Linked DNA regions of Homo sapiens. The protein of the gene in region 2 purifies or fractionates together with the protein of the main gene of each other region. This does not show direct contact. Each region holds a gene or a part of one and is shown on either strand. Other genes may lie near its edges.

Region 1 (7,638 bases), on a different chromosome or scaffold from region 2:
TTAAAGCCTATTATCCAACTTATGCCTCAAGCAGCAACATTTTTGTGTTCAACAATTTAACTTACTACACACACCTTGTGCAAAATCACAAACCTTCTCATACATTTATGAGCTTCAGAATGTAACTGGGAAGTGTAGCACAGCCCTTTGTCCCTCTGCATTGCATGGTGAGAAACGGCTAAAGCAACCATCGCCGCATTCTGTTTTATGAGCACAAAGGAACACCTATTCTTATCTGGGCCACGCGCCCCGGTCCTTAGGAGGATGCCAGATCCCCCTGGGATGGCAATGGCAGAGGCTGCACAGCTTCCTGAAGATGTAGGTACCACAGCACCAGCCCCGGGCAGGGAGCCAGGCCAAGGGCAACGACAGAATCTTCCGGAGACAGCACAGCAACCCACTCATTTGTGTGCACCCGCACCCACAACCGTCTTGCACTGGGTGCATGTCACGCCCAGGGTGAGGGAAGTTGAGGCCTGGCCTCACAGTGTGGACCGGCTGCGGGACAAGAACACAGTCAACTTTGGCTTTGCTTGGAAAGCTGCTTCAGATACATAACTCCCGGCCCCTCCTGAAAATGATCGTTTTCTTAGCCGGGGCCCTGTGCTTTAGGAGAGGTTTACTGTCAGAGCTTGCTGTTCTTTTGAAACTGGGCCACTAGGCTGAGGACCTGCTCAGAGGCTTTGATGATCTTGGAGCCGAGGTAGGAGGTGCTGTTGGGGCCCGTCTCCTCCAGGAAGTAGCGGTAGTTGGCCATCAGGCCGCAGGAGCCGGTGATGCCTCTGAGGCTCACATCCGCCATCCAGTTGATGCGCCACAGCACCGCCCCGTTCTGCAGGTGGAAGTTGGCCACGGGGTTCAGCGCGTAGCCGCGGTGCTTCTCTCCATACAGGTACCAGGCGCACAGCCTCATCAGCGGAGTCTGCAGCGCCCGCACCAGCTTCTCCGACTGCACCCACTCGCTGCTGCTGAGGAGGAGCTTGAGGGTCTCGTTAATGGGGCCACCTGTGATCTCCGAGATTTCCTTACATTCCGAATCTGTAAAGAGTTCATTCCTCCCATGCTCCTTCGTTTGCGAGTTCAGAAGCCCCAGAAGCCATTTGGTGAAACCAGGTATAGGTGACAGACTTGAAAACACCCCAAGGTGAGGAAACTCTCTCTGTAAAGCATGGTTGGGGTGGAAAGGAAGGCGGAGAAAACACAAATTCAGCAGGTACGTTACCAACAGAGGAGCACCTCTTAACCTACGGCTCACATGCTGCTGTGTAGCGGTCAGAGTGACATCTGATACATGTTGTTTATCTTCTTTCAAGCAGCTTTTCTTTTTTTCCTCTTAGAGTCAGGGTCTTGCTCTATTGCCCTAGCTGGAGTGCAGTGGTGTCATCATGGCTCACTGCAGCCTCCATCTCCTGGGTCCAAGCCATCCTCCTGCCTCAGCCTGCTGAGTAGCTGGGACCACAGGCTCGCGCCGCCACACCCAGCAGGAAATATTTATCAGGAACCTGATGTGTGCCAGACCCTGGAGGCATCCTGACTCCCCAAGGCAGGGCGTCTCTGTCCCCACCATCCCTTCTCATGTCGGCAAAACCGAGACTAGAGTGTTGGGGGACTTGCCTAAAACCAGACAGCTGGCCAGTGGGGAGTGGGGCTCGGTGCACTGCAGCTACTCACTGCAGGCCTTGTCTTTCCCGTACACCATGCTCCTCCCATGGCCACCTGTGAGGCCCCGGAAGCTGCTCTGCTGCTCGGCACACGAGTGGCCAGGGACTGGTGAGTGAGCGACTAGCTGCCCGGCCACACCACGGCGGGTGCAGAACGGGGTAGAGGGCGAGGAGGGGGACGCTGCGGGTATCTCTCCATATCACATGACACGGTTCAATCGTTATTGTCCCAACTAGATAGAGATCTCATGATCATTTCAAACAATCTGCTACTTTCTGATTATAAATGTAACACATGCTCACTATAGATATTTTTTGAAAAAATTAATGACAGAAGAAAATAAAACCATCACACTCCACTACATTGAGAAAACCACTCTCGACAGTCTGCTCAGATAAACTCCTGGTGTTTCTTGATGCGATTTTTGCATGGGTGAGACACTTACTTTATATTTTGCAATATGAATTTATATCGTGAGCATTTTCTCATTATCATTTAAAATTCAAAAACAGAAGATTTTAACCACAGAGTAATATAAAAAAAGCAGCCTATTATGATTTTCCTCACCATGTTCCTCTCGTTGGGCATTCGTGGTAGCTCCCGGGGTTTTTCCCCCACCCCGAACCACTGTTTTTTTTTTTTTTTTTTTGAGACTGTCTCTCCCAGGCTGGAGCGCAATGGTGCAGTCTTGGCTCACTGCAATCTCCGCCTCCTAGGTTCAAGTGATTCTCCTGCCTCGGCCTCCCGAGTAGCTGGGACTACAGGCATGCACCACCATGCCTAATTTTTATATTTTTAGTAGAGACGGGGTTTCACCACGTTCGCCAGGCTAGTCTCGAACTCCTGACCCCAGGTGATCTGCCTGCCTCGGCTGGGATTACAGGCGTGAGCCACTGCGCCCAGCTGTGTTTTGCTTTTGTAAACCCTGACGAGCGCCTCCACGCAGAGGGGCCATTTGTTCCCTTCCAGACTCCCTTTGAGGACTTCTAGGCTGGCCGCCCAGGGGCAGTTAAGCGACACCCTCAGGACAGCTGCTGGGCTAAGGCCCAACTCCCCCGAATCCCGGGATCTGCTCCTCCTCTTCCTGCCTTCCTTACCCTGATACATTTCCCCACCCCGCCCTGCTAATCACCACCCTCAGTGAAGACAGAGGAATGAGGAAACTGTGGGAATGAGCTACGGCTCATTGTTACCCGGGGGAAACATGGCGGCGTGGTAATGAAGCCCACGCCCAGCTGAATCCTGAGGGCTTCAATTAGAAATTGATTATGAATTTACTAGGAGCATGTAAACGTCCCCACTCCACACTGTCGTCCTCAAAGGAAGGCCTCTGCTGCAGCCATGTGCAGCCCCCAACACAGTGAACACCCTGCTCAGAGCCAGTCATTAGCAAACATCTAGCTACCGCACCTAATTATTAGATTCTACTCATTGGAATTTATCCAAGTCCCTGATGAGGCTGGTGGTTTTTGAAAGCCTAGGCCTGGAGTGAACATCAACATTTCTGATGTAGGATGGTTAATATGTTTTTCACAGGGCAGCAAAGAGAGGAGAGTTAGATTAAAAGCCGATGCATTTACCTTCGAGCTGTCTGGTCTCACCTCAGCACTCCCTCACAGGCCATGAGAAGGCCCAAGCTAACAGCACATCAGGTGTCAGAGGCCCTGAGAGTGTGGGCAGGGGCAGGGGGAGGACAGGCGTGGCAGGATGACTACCAGCTGTGCCATCTGGCTGGGACATTTCAGAGTGACACTTACACCAGGATGACACGTGAAATCCAGAGTGTCCTGACCAGGTCAGAACGAGGTCACCCTAGAGAGAGTTGATGACCTCAGAATACAACTGCGTCTTGCAGTCAACTGGGCAGCTGGGTTGGAGGCCTCTCTCAGCATCATTCTCATCTCTCTGGGAGACTCATGGCTCCTAGGAGTTGCCAAGGGGTCTCTGGCACCTTTTCTACCCCCTGCCCCTCCCTTTAGCTCCTGTCTTCATCTGTGTCCCTCATGGCACCTGACACCCCACGAGGTTCGCTGACCTGACCACACGGAAGCCAAGCGTGACCGGGGCTCCCTGCGTGTCGCTTACCTGCAACTCCTTGACGACTCGCTTTATGAGGAATGTTCCCAGCTCCACCCCTTGGAGTCCCTGCTGGGTCAAGCTGATGGAATAAAAGATCGCAGCAGTGATTTTGTTCTTCTCTTCTGTTTCTGATGGAGGATGTTCCTTCACGATTGCCTGGAAAACACCAACGATGGTTCTAAGGGTGGCCTGGCCGCTCTGCAGCCCACGAGGCAAGCCTGTTGCTGGGACGAGAAGACAATTCTCAGAGCACTGAAGGAGCTGGAAGAGACCTCGGCTCCCCAGCTGGGGTTCAGGCTACAGAGCCTAAAAGCTGCTCTGTTTTGAAAACTCTCTGGAGGAGGCGACTCCACCGCGTGCCTGGGGGTCCTCAGCACTGCATCGTTTCTTGAAATTTTCATGCAAACTTTGTTGAAGAGCAATGTATGCCCCTTTCTGTCTCTTTTAGGCCTTTGTGCAAACAAAAACTTGCTCCATAAACTCTCCGGCCAACACTCAGCGATAACACACGGATCCTTGAGACCAAACAGCTCCAGTTCCTTCAGCTTCTCCTAAAGGACTGACGTTTCCCACCACTGAATTGTTTTTCCTCCTTTTCTCTGAACCCTAGGTTTTTCAAATTTCTCAAGAGGCTATAAGCAGTCCTATATAATTTTCTTTTAGGAAATATACCTTTGTTTGACTTTTTCATGTACCTTTTGGGTTTTGTGCCATTTCTGTTTTTCCTAAATGGTAACACATTTGCAGACATCCCTGCGAGGCATTCTAAGAAACGAGCTAGACTGGGAAGTCGCTTAGCTGAAGTCTGAGTTTATTGCCTCTCATTCTCACGGCAGCGTTTTCTAATCCCTTATACTCCGAAGCATAATCCTTAACACTCCAAAGCTCACTGGATAACAGTGGAACAGCAGGGGGCTACCTTTTCATTTGCTTTGAAGCAGGGAAACCAGCTTACTTTTGAAGAACCCATTTAAACTATTTTAACTTCTACCAGCGACCTTCGATTCTGGAAGTAGGAGCGTTTAGCTCAGACTGCATAGATGAGGTCTCGTAGTCAGTCCATGAACTTTCTGAAATTGTTCTGAAATTGTATGGAGGCCGGGCGCGGTGGCTCACGCCTGTAATCCCAGCACTTTGGGAGGCCGAGGCGGGCAGATCACGAGGTCAGGAGATCGAGACCACCCTGGCTAACACGGTGAAACCCCGTCTCTACTAAAAATACAAAAAAAATGAGCCGGGCATGGTGGCAGGTGCCTGTAGTCCCAGCTACTACGGAGGCTGAGGCAGGAGAATGGTGTGAACCCGGGAGGCGGAGGTTGCAGGGAGCCGAGATCATGCCACTGCACTCCAGCCTGGGCACAGAGCGAGACTCCGTCTCAAAAAAAAGAAAAAAAGAAAGAAATTGTGTATGGAATGTGTGAGTCTATGCATATCTGCCCTGAGGAAAACATCCTCAGCATTTTTCCCTCCAGATTCTTAACAGGGTCTGTGACTCCAACAAAGTGAAGAAATGCTGCTGTGAGGAAAGGGGGAGAGCTCATGACATGAAGGACATATCCTCCGAGGCCCGAGAGGGGCCCGCTGTCCTGCACCGTGCTCTATGGAAGAGCTCTGTCGTTCATAGGACGGAGCTCACTTCACATCACTCCCAGGCTTATCTCCTTTCTTTTTTTTTTTTTTTTTGAGATGGAGTCTTGCTCTGTCGCCCAGGCTGGAGTGCAGTGGCACGACCTCGGCTCACTGCAACCTCTGCCTAGTGGCAAGCGATTCTCATTTGTGCCTCAGCCTCCCAAGTAGCTGGGGCTACAGGTGCACACCACCACACCCGGCTAATTTTTGTATTTTTAGTAGAGACGGGGTTTCACCATGTTGGCCAGGCTGGTCTGGAACTCCTGACCTCAGGTGATCCGGCTGCCTCCTCAGCCTCCCGGGGTGTTGGGATTCTGGGCGCGAGTCACTGCGTCGGGCTCTCCTTTGTTTTTTAAGAAGTCTGCAAATTATCTTGTGATTCCTTATGCAAAAATCCCAGCAATCTTTTTTTTAAGTTTTCAAAATAAAAACAAAACTTTCTTCGGTTATACAAGTGAGGTATGTATAATGTCAAAGAGACAAAAAATTGATAAAACTAAGTGAATAAAACAAAAAGAGGCAAAAAAAAAAAACCATGCATAAAAAAAAATAACCAATTACTCCAAAATCTAATCTCCATGACTGTTGCTGCTGCCCTTTTGATGAACACCTTTCCAGGCCTGTCTCAGAGGCTCTCGGTACGCACACAAATGCACACAGGACTGCGTACCCACGCACATTCTCACGTGCCCTTAGAGTCAGGATGCGAGCTGGGTCTGAATTCCAGTTCCGCCCTTACTTGCTCGATGATCATGGGTAAGTTGCGGACGTTCCCTCAAGCCTCGGTTTTCTCATAATAATACCTATATCAGCCGGGCACGGTGGCTCACGCCTTTATAGTCCCAGCACTTTGGGAAGCCGCGGCGGGCAGATCACCTGAGGTCGGGAGTTCGAGACCAGCCTGGCCAACATGGTGAAATCCCATCTCTGCTAAAAATACAAAAAAAAAAAAAAATTAGCTGGGCATGGTGGCACATGCCTGTAATCCCCAGCTACTCGGGAGGCTGAGGCAGGAGAATTGCTTGTACCCGGGAGTTGGAGGTTGCAGTGAGCCGAGACAGCACCATTGCACTCTAGCCTGCGCAAGAAGAGCGAAACTCCGCTTCAAAAAAAAAAAAAAAAAACACAACACCACCACCTAAATCACAGGGTGCTCAGGGCAATAACACACAAAATGTGCTTCACAGACTGACAGGCACAGAGCACTACTCAACAGATATTATTAATATTATTCATAAGACCACACCATACCCATGCTACTCTATAAACCTGAACTTCTACTCAAGAGTAAGTCAAGGCTGGTTTTCCATATAAACCTACAACAATATTTAAATACATGCACAGATATCTGATGTACACGAGGCCGCGCCATGTGTCTACAGCGCCCTCCTGGAGCCCATTCTCTCCTGATGGGCCCTAGGTTATCATCCCCACCCTTTTGAACTGTCAGCAATGCTGCAGGAATAGCCATCTGACTCTCAGGGCTGAGCATCTCCCCAGGAGAAGTTCCTAGGAGTGGAATTGTTAGGCCAGAAGGAATGCACATTCTGAATTTTCATCCATGTTGCCAAATTGCCCTCAGAGAAGTCAGAATGGCCCCTAGTCCCACCAAGAGGGCATCGGAGTGTGACTCTTTCACACACAAACATTGTAAGGGAATGTGTTTCTCCTTGGTGATCAGGAATGTCTGCTCATTTGCCCTACTCAGCTTCTCTAACTTCTCAGCAGGACACCTGCTTAGGGCACTCATCTTGTGATGGGCCATCATCCACTTAGCTTCCTAACAGCCACTCATGTCCTCTTGGTCTGAGCAAACCTGCAATGCCCCAGGGGTCTCATGCTCCCTGCCACCTATCTTTAGCACTCCTATTTCCAGACCCTGCAATGTGCTCCCTGGTTCTTCTGCCCCCACGGGCCTGCAGGAGTGTTTCAGACATTCTTGCCAAACTCATCCAGGAGCAGAGCAGCTTGCCACAGACGGGGCTATCAACCACAAGTCCCATAACCTCCACTCGCCAAGGAGTGTCCTCGGCCCACATCAAGCATAAGGGATGGAGTGCCTCTTTCAATTTTCTAATCAAGTATCTTTCAAAACTCCCCACAGGCATTTAACAAAAGCTGTAAAGGTAAACTATGTATGAATCAGGTATCTGTCCCTTCTTCCTTCACAATTATTTTCTGCCTCACAAACATGTTCTGTGATAGACTTTAACTGTATCTCAACCTAAGATCAACACAGCCAGATGAATGCTCGCCTTGCTCCATAAC
Region 2 (9,063 bases):
AGGAGCAGATAATGAAGAGCTACTGGATAAAATTATGTAAATAAAAGAAACATACATTTTCTTCTGCTAAGTGAATAATACACACTGACACAGGTACCACTACAACTAAAATAAAAATGGAAAACGTTTTTAAAGTTCAAAGCATTTAACTTAATTGCTAAGATTAAGAAATTTTTACCAATGAACTGCCCACCTACTTACTGCACTATTGAGAAAAAGCTGTAATCACTGAACATTGAAATCTACTATGGCAGTATAAGCTGTGGTACGCTACACATATTCTACACATGGAGGAAAACACATTTTCACTGAAGAGATATAGATCAGTGGAATTTTTTGGTAATGCAAATACAATCAAATCAAAATTTAGATTGGAAATGAAATAACATGAAGTACTAATCTCACAAATATTTGTAACGAAAAGTGATTATGAAAGTAAATCGTCAGAACTGCAACCTATATCACATATTTGTATTGGAAAATATTAGTGTATTCAGAATAAATTGTTATTTAAAAAAATTTAAGTACCAATCAAAGGCTGACACACTGGGTAGGATAAAAAAATTTTAAAACTCCTGGAATAAATTATATTACAAAGGTATCACTAGAAATATTCAAGCATAAATGGAATGTAGACAAAAATGAAATATTCTGATACATATTTGAGAAAATGCGGTAAGAGAAAATATTATTCATAAAGCACAAAAGGAAAATGAAAACGTAATAACCCACCTTCCTAGAGTGGTCCCCTCCAATAGACTGATCTTCCCCGTCCACATCTACCATTGGGCATGGTGGAAGGCTGGGGCTGAAGGCCATGAGGTCCGCCTTGGGCAGGCCCTCCCCAGAACACACCCTCTGCCGCCTCTGCTGCGAGTAAGACCAGCTCCCCACCGCGCTAGAGCACACCAGCGTGGGCTTCACCGGCCCACATGCGCCCTCGGTGGGCGCCGCCGAGCACCTCAGTGCAGTGTACAGCAGCAGCGTGAGCACCAGCAAGCTGGACACCGCGCAGATGGCGATGATCAGGTACACGTTGACATCCACCAGGGCCACCTCGGGCGCCACGCCCACTGAAGCCCGCGACGAGGCCTTGGGTGCCTGGCTGCCCTCCACAAGCGACACAAGCACAGTGGCCGTGGCCGTCAGCGACGGCTCGCCATGGTCCTTCACCAGCACCAGTAGGCGCTGGCGTGGCGAGTCAGTCTCATCCAGAGCGCGCGTCGTACTGATCTCGCCCGTGTACAGCCCCACGCGAAACGGGATGCGTGCACCAACCGCCGCCGACTGCAATTCATACGACAGCCACGCGTTGTATCCAGAGTCAGCGTCCACTGCGCGCACCTTAGCCACCACGTGACCCGCAACCACCGACCGCAGCACCAGCTCACTGACTGCACCGCCCGCGCTGCCAGCGGGAGACGCCAGCAGCGCGGGAGCGTTGTCGTTCTCGTCCAGCACGAACACCTGCAGCGTCAAGTTGCTGCCCAGAGGCGGCACGCCCCCATCGCGCGCGCTCACCTGGAACTGTAGCAGCTCCAGCTCCTCGTGGTCCAGCGGCTGCAGCGCGTACACCTTGCCGCTCTCCGCGTGCACCGACACGTAGCTCGACAGCGAGCGCTCGCCCAACCGCCGCTCCACCAGAGAGTAGGACACCAGGGCGTTCTCCTGCGCGTCCGCGTCCCACGCAGACACCGTGAAGATGTGGCAGCCTGGCGGGTTGTTCTCCTTCACGAACACCGTGTACTCGGACTGCGCGAACGCAGGCGCGTTGTCGTTCACGTCGGCCACCTCCACAGACACGCTGGCCGTGGCCCACAGCGGAGGCGAGCCCCCGTCCCGCGCGGTCACCACCAGCTCATAGGCCGACACCCTCTCGCGGTCCAGAGCGCTGTCCAGCACCAATGAGTAGTAATTCTTGTAGGTGGACACCAGCTTGAACGGAACGTGAGGCGTCAGAGAGCAGGTGACCTGTCCGTTGGCTCCTGAATCATGGTCAGAAACGCTGATTAGGGCAATGACGGTGCCCACTTGAGCATCTTCTTTCACTGGGAGAGACAGAGAAGTGACAATCACCTCAGGTGAATTATCATTTTCATCCAGTAGTTCCACTAGGACCGTGCAGTGACCAACCATAGGTGGGTTTCCCTTATCTGTAACATCTACATGAATTTCATAAGTGTTACTGTCCTCAAAGTCAATAGCATCATTTACTTTTATTTCTCCCGTCCTTTCGTTTATCCAAAATTTCCTTCTTATCGTGGGTGGGACCAAAGAGCTAAATGAATACATCATTTCCTTGTTTATTCCTTCATCCGAATCAGAAGCGTTGAGCCGTATTACTAATGTTTGGTTCACTTGATTTTCATACATCTTAACTTCATAAACCGGTCTGTCAAAGATAGGGGCGTTATCATTGGCATCTAACACCAGGATCAGCAGAGAAACAGATCCGGTAAATTCAGGTTTGCCTCCATCAGTTGCTGTCAACAACAACTTTAGCTGAGGATTTTCTTCACGATCCAGCAGCTTCCGCAGAACAAGCACTGGGAATTTGTCTTTGTCTTTTTTGTTTATAATATCAAGAACAAAATACTCATTTGGACTGAGTTTGTAAGTAAGCAATGCGTTCTCTCCAACATCCGCATCAGATGCGCCTTCTAGTGGAAATCGAGAGTCAAGCAGTCTGGATTCAGGTATTGAGAGCTTTTGTTCTGTTACGGAGAACCTGGGCGGGTTGTCGTTAATGTCCTTCACTTCCACGTCCACATGGAAAACCTGCAGCGGCCTGTCCACGATCACCTCCAGGTGGATGCTGCACTCCACGCTCCGCCCGCACAGCTCCTCGCGGTCAATCCGAGAATTCACAAACAAAATGCCATTCTGCAGATTTACCTCCAGAAGGTCCCCGTGTCTTTTGGACGCCACCCGGAACAGGCGCTGCACCAGCTCCGCCAGCTCCAGCCCCAGGTCCTGCGCGATGCGGCCCACGAAGGTGCCGTGTCTGGCCTCCTCGTAGACTGAGTAGTGGAGCTGGCCGCTCCCCACCTCCCAGGCTGCGAGGAGAAGAAGCGAGAGCAGCAGACACTGGACCCCCAGGCAGCTACATCTGGAAACCATCTTATCCTTCTCTTGTTTTACAAATCGACGAATCAGCGGTCTAGAACGCACATACGATCTGACATTTTCTGTCCTATTTCTTATATCTATTTTTTATCGAAATGGCTGAGATCTCAGAATGACGCTACTTCCTAGTCCTTGAGAAACTGGCTGATGCCTTTGTTCTAAAAAGCTATTTTGTGGACGACAGCGACATCCGGTGGCTTTAGGTGTAAGTACGATTCCATGAGTTCACAACTTTTCTTTCATTCATATGTTAATTCTTTTTTTACGTATTTTTATGTCTATGGACTTTCAAAGCCTCACATTACGTCTCTTTATAGTTAATAACAATAAATGTTGATCCCACGTGCAATGTTTTCTTAAATGTAGACTCTCAGAGTAGTGATTTCTTCCCTAACCACATGATTATCAATAGCCGAATTTCAAAATGCCCTTAATATTTGCATACTACTGAGTATACTAATATTTTATTAAATGACAACTTTAGTTCCATTTAAGTTCTGACACTTAACTTACTTCTCTTTCTCATTATTTTGAGATTTAATAAGGTTTATTTAGACACTAATGTCAAGCATCAACTATCTGTGAGGTGTTTATAACTCCGAAGATCTAGTCATCACTAGAATTTAGAGATCATTAGCTTCAACATCAGACATTTCTCCATTTAGATTCCTATTATCCTACTCACTAGCCACATGACTTGGGAAAATCGTTTAACCTCTCCCTCCCTCATGTTCCAATTTTATAACTTTGGCCTAATAGTAATACGGTGGTTGAGTGAATTATAATATAGTAAGTGCTTGCAATAGTACCTTAAGGAGAATGAGTGCTTCATAAATGGAAACTATTCTCAGGCCTCAATTTGGCCACATTTGTTTTCATGAGGCTCAATACCAAATTTGGCTCATCAGGCAAAATTATTACCTATAGAATGCCTTAATTATTGCTACTGCACAGGCTGAGAGTGGTGGTTTCTGTATTTAAGAAAACAGAAAAGTACTATTACAGAAAAATCCTTTATACAAGAAGTTTCATTTTATAATATCTTACACGGGCAAAAAGAATCTTAATTATAATTCTGAATAAAGTAATTAAGAAATTTATTATTTCTGCTTTCAGAGGCAAATGCTTTCAACCCTGTTATATTTACGCTTTTCAAATGCCCAAAAGACACAGTTCTGAAATATATCTAGTAATTTTATCAATGTCAGTGAAGTTTTTCATCACCACTTGCAGTAAAAATATTTTTTTCTCTCTCAAAGTTCTTGAAATCAAATATTCAGGAATGAAAATGTAATATATCTGTGCTGCTGAAAAAAACTTGAGTTTTCTGTCTTTCCAAGAAAGGAAAACTTAACAACAGACATATTGGTCTTATGCAAGGGTTAATTTATTTTATTTAATGATGTTTTGACTTTTCTAAAGAATATTTTTAAATGTGTCAATTACTTTAAACTTTTTTTATTAAAATCTGAATGACAGAGCAACAATATTTATGAATAAGAAAACTGACAGAAATGGGTGTCACTTAATCCATCAGTTTATGTGTCCTACTAAATTCTGTTTCTATACTTCTCTACTCCTCTGGAATGCCTCTTGCATCAAAATTCATTCAAATTCTGATTTTAGAGATTACTTTTTTATAAACCCTGAATTAAAATGTAATGAGTTATGTATCAAAATATCAACGTTTGTTTTAGCTATCTGGAGCGTAAAATAAGTTTGCCATTGATCAATCATCTCCACGCACAAAATAATAAAAACTAAACTCAATTTCTACTAATGTACATTTTATACCAAGTGATAACATAAATATCCCAATGTAGATGTCCAATATTGAATAAAAAGTAGGGAGTAGTTAAACTACTCTTTTTTTTTTTTTTTTTGAGACAGAATCTTGCTGTCACCCGGGCTGAAATGCAGTTGTGCCATCACAGTTCACTGCAGCCTCAATGTCCCAGGCTCAAGCGATTCTCTCGCCTCAGCCTCCTGAGTAATTGGGACTAGAGATGTGTGCCACCATGCCCGGCTAATTTTTTTTTTTTGGCAGAGATGAGTCTCACTACATTGGTCTCAAACTGCTGGGCTCAAGGAAGGGACCCTCCCACCTTGGCCTCCCAAAATGTTGGGATTGCAGGTGTCAGGCCACCACATCTTTTTAAATTACAGAAACTTGCACTGTCAAGTATCAAATAGGGCTATGGATCTAAAATTTCGGTTGTATGAGAATCATCTCAGGTGTGCTTTAAAATGAAAATTTGCTCTTACTACCCATTTCAGAATTTCTGAGGTGGAGCCTTGAACCAGAACATTCAATGAGGACTTAGGTGCTGCTAATGCTAATGCGTTAGCAGGTCTAAGGATAGGTTGACCATAGGCCCCAATTTGTCTGGAACAGGCTCAATTTAGGTCTGTGATCTTGTATACTTATTTACAGCACCCCCTTTGCTCTCAAAGTGTCTAAGATATTGGGTGACAACTTAGTTTTTCCTATATAGTAATTACAACTTGAAAAGAGACATAGGAGGAGCTTCATTATTGTTTCATGATTCTAACTTGAATTGAGGAATGTTAACTACAGATGCATATAAGGAGACCTATTAGGCAAAATAGGAAAGTGTCTCTTCTGCTTTCACCTCTCTGTTTTGAACTTGACAGGCTGTTTTGAATTTTACCATCTCTGGATCCCTGTGAGTTCATGTTTGCTAATGACCTCAAAAGATAAATTTATTACTAAGGTGTTCACAGCCCTTCTGAGAATTTGCATATGATGAGAGCTTGTACTCTGAGAGAGAATAGAGATTAATATGAAGGACTAAATTACCAATCCCATCAATACAGCCGTCAATAATAAAGAACACATTTTAGGCCAGGCGCGGTGGCTCACGCCTGTAATCCCAGCATTTTGGGAGGCTGAGGCGGGAGGATCATGAGGTCAGGAGATCGAGACCATCCTGACTAACACGGTGAAACCCCATCTCTACTAAAAATACAAAAAAATTAGGCGGGCATGGTGGCAGGCGCCTGTAGTCCCAGCTACTCGGGAGGCTGAGGCAGGAGAATGGCGTGAACACGGGAGGGGGAGCTTGGAGTGAGCCAAGATGGCACCACTGCACTCCAGCCTGGGCAACAGAGCGAGACTCTGACTCAAAAAAAAAAATACGTTTTATGATTATTGATGACATAGTAAATGCTTAGTAAGTACTAGCTCTAAGGAGACTGGAGGACTTAGGGCGGGAGACAAATGACATCTGTAGCATCCCTCTATTCACATCAAATAATCAGATACCTGGGTCCAAGTTTAAATGGCACATGAAACTTGAAAAACGTGCAAAGACAAAGATACTTGAAAGTATAAGACTATATTCAAGGTGAGTTGTGCTGATAGACAGATATAGATAGGTTTAATGACAGGAGCTCAGAGACCACTCAAGTTTTGAAAGAAAATGACAAAAAAAAAAAATAAAAAAGCCTTGGCACAGTGGCTCACAGCTTTAATCCCAGCACTTTGGGAGGCCGAGGTGGGAGCATCACAAGGTCAGGAGTTCGAGACCAACCTGGCCAACATGATGAAACCCCATCTCTACTAAAAATACAAAAATTAGCTGGGCGCGGTGGCATGTGCCTATAATCCCAGCTACTCAGGAGGCTGAGGCAGGAGAATTGCTTGAACCCAGGAGGCAGACGTTGCAGTGAGCCAAGATCATGCCACTGTACTCCAGCCTGGGTGGCAGAAAACGACTCCGTCTCAGAAAAATAAAAAGACAAAAAACATGTAATATTGTAGCATATTCCAAAAGTGTGTTTTAAGGGAAAATTTAAAAATTAAAATATTTTGTTTTAAATAAACGTTACTGGCATTTTCATAGTTATTTTTGTGGCTCTATTCTCAAGGCCATTCTGATCTTTCTCTACTGAGTTTTTAATTAGGTCATACCTTGTAAAATATCTGACACAATATTAAATAAAATAGCTGAAAGAGAAAGAAAAATATAAACCACATAACAAAAACTCAATAAGCGAAGTTTTTAAAACTATAAATTAGAAAACAAACAAATAGCTTGCACTAAAGGTAGAGTGTGGAAAACCACCATTTTGAAAGTCACATACTACAATTCAGGAAACATAACATGTAGTGACATTAAAGAGGCAAATCTCATATCCAGATTTCTGCCTTGTGTTATGTATGAGCTGAGAGGAGAAAAAGATATTTTTAAAAAAACAGATTTCTGTCTTATGGATTACTGACAGAACAAGTGAATTCTCATCTAAATTCATAAGGGTAATGTTTTAAGTTACAGACTCTGAATTTCAAAAGAACTCGAAGTTTCGAATCTTCACATGGCTGATCATTTTATCACTGAATGGAGAAAATTTCAATTAAAAGGAGAATGTCTTCTTGAAGAAAGGAAACACTTGTTTAAAAAGCATTTTCTCCAATTTCTGTAAACTGAATTTCAAAAAATGTTCTAAGTGTAGACAAAATTTCAGTCAACATTTCTTGAATTATCTACATTGTCAGGCATTTTAAAACATATTTTATATAAGTTGAAATGAAGGCTGTGTTTATAACATTTATTGACATAATTTGATTCCTAAAGTGGAGCAACTGTTTTCTAAAGTTTAGGGGAAGTTTCTTTCTTATTAAAATAATAGATACTGAAGGTTGCTGAACAATCAGATGTTCACAGTCTCCATCCAGAGAAATGTAGAGAACTACAAACTTAACAAGGTAACAATTGCTATATATTTTTGCTTGGGTTTCTTATAAACAATACAAGTAGACTAAAATACTATGCATCATTTAGCAATAAATAAATGATAGTGATGTTAATGTTTAATGAATGACTAACAACTAAATTGGTTTTCAAGTGTTATGGCAGCATAGCATCAGAAATTCAATGTCACTTTAATCACAAATTTAAATAAAATTGATTCAGCACCCAAAAAATATCTATTTAATATACAGTTTATAATTCTCACTAGAAGTCAAGACAAAGTCGGCTCCAATGTTAAGGGGTTTACTTTATCAGAAAAAAAATCTGCTGGATTTCTAGAAAAATGAATAAAACTATTTGAACGGCCCCTGGGAGTAATCGATAATATCTTTCAAGAAAAAAAATTATATAAATAAATAAAATGCTAGAAAAACCCACCTTCCCAGTTGAATCTGAGGAAGCAGAGGGTTCTCCCGTTCGCTCTGTAGATCCAGCACAAGGAGAAAGGCCCGGGCTGAAGGCCATGAGGTCGGTCTTCTGCTTACCCTCGCCAGAGCACACCCTCTGCCTCCTCTGCTGCGAGTACGACCAACTCCCCACCGCGCTAGAACACACCAGCGTCGGCTTGCCAGGCGCGCACTCGCCCTCGGTGGGCATCGCCGAGCACCGCAGCACAGTGTACAGCAGCAGCGTGAGAACCAACAGGCTAGACACCGCGCAGATGGCGATGATCAGGTACACGTTGACATCCACCAGCGTCACCTCGGGGCCCGTGGCACCCACTGACGCCCGCGACGATGACTTTGGCGCCTGGCCGCTCTCCACCAGCGACACCAGCACAGTGGCCGTGGCCGTCAGCGCTGGCTCCCCGTGGTCTTTCACCAGCACCAGTAGGCGCTGGCGCGGTGCGTCCGTTTCGTCCAGGGCACGCGTTGTGCTGATCTCGCCCGTGTACAGCCCCACGCGGAACGGGATGCTCGCGCTGGCCGTTTCTGGCTGCAGCTCGTATGAAAGCCACGCGTTGTAGCCCGAGTCGGCGTCCACTGCGCGCACCTTCCCCACCACTACGCCGGCGCCCACCGACCGCAGCACCATCTCGCTCACTGCGCCGTCAGTGCCCCTCATCCGAGGTGTCAGCAGCGCCGGCGCATTGTCGTTCTCGTCCAGCACGAACACCTGCAGCGTCACGTTGCTGCCCAGAGGCGGCACGCCCGCGTCGCGC

Evidence for each region. Proteins that work in one complex are often made in the same cells at the same time.
Region 1: the proteins of PCDHA9 (region 2) and MLYCD purify together in Homo sapiens (affinity purification with mass spectrometry; 2 studies listed by BioGRID and IntAct, with this or other methods). This does not show direct contact.

Annotation. Positions count from the first base shown.
Region 1 is NC_000016.10:83,908,477-83,916,114, reverse strand, and holds part of MLYCD (malonyl-CoA decarboxylase, mitochondrial), read right to left. Parts: intron 3,898-7,638; coding exon 3,748-3,897; intron 1,160-3,747; coding exon 626-1,159; 3' UTR 1-625. UniProt on the Homo sapiens protein: Catalyzes the conversion of malonyl-CoA to acetyl-CoA.
Region 2 is NC_000005.10:140,850,106-140,859,168, reverse strand, and holds part of PCDHA9 (protocadherin alpha-9 isoform 1 precursor), read right to left. Parts: coding exon 8,280-9,063; coding exon of another isoform or gene 8,145-8,279; exon of another isoform or gene 5,010-8,144; intron 3,273-5,009; exon of another isoform or gene 3,121-3,272; coding exon of another isoform or gene 586-3,120; exon of another isoform or gene 1-585. Other genes in the region: PCDHA10 (protocadherin alpha-10 isoform 1 precursor), read right to left, coding at 733-3,120. UniProt on the Homo sapiens protein: Potential calcium-dependent cell-adhesion protein. May be involved in the establishment and maintenance of specific neuronal connections in the brain.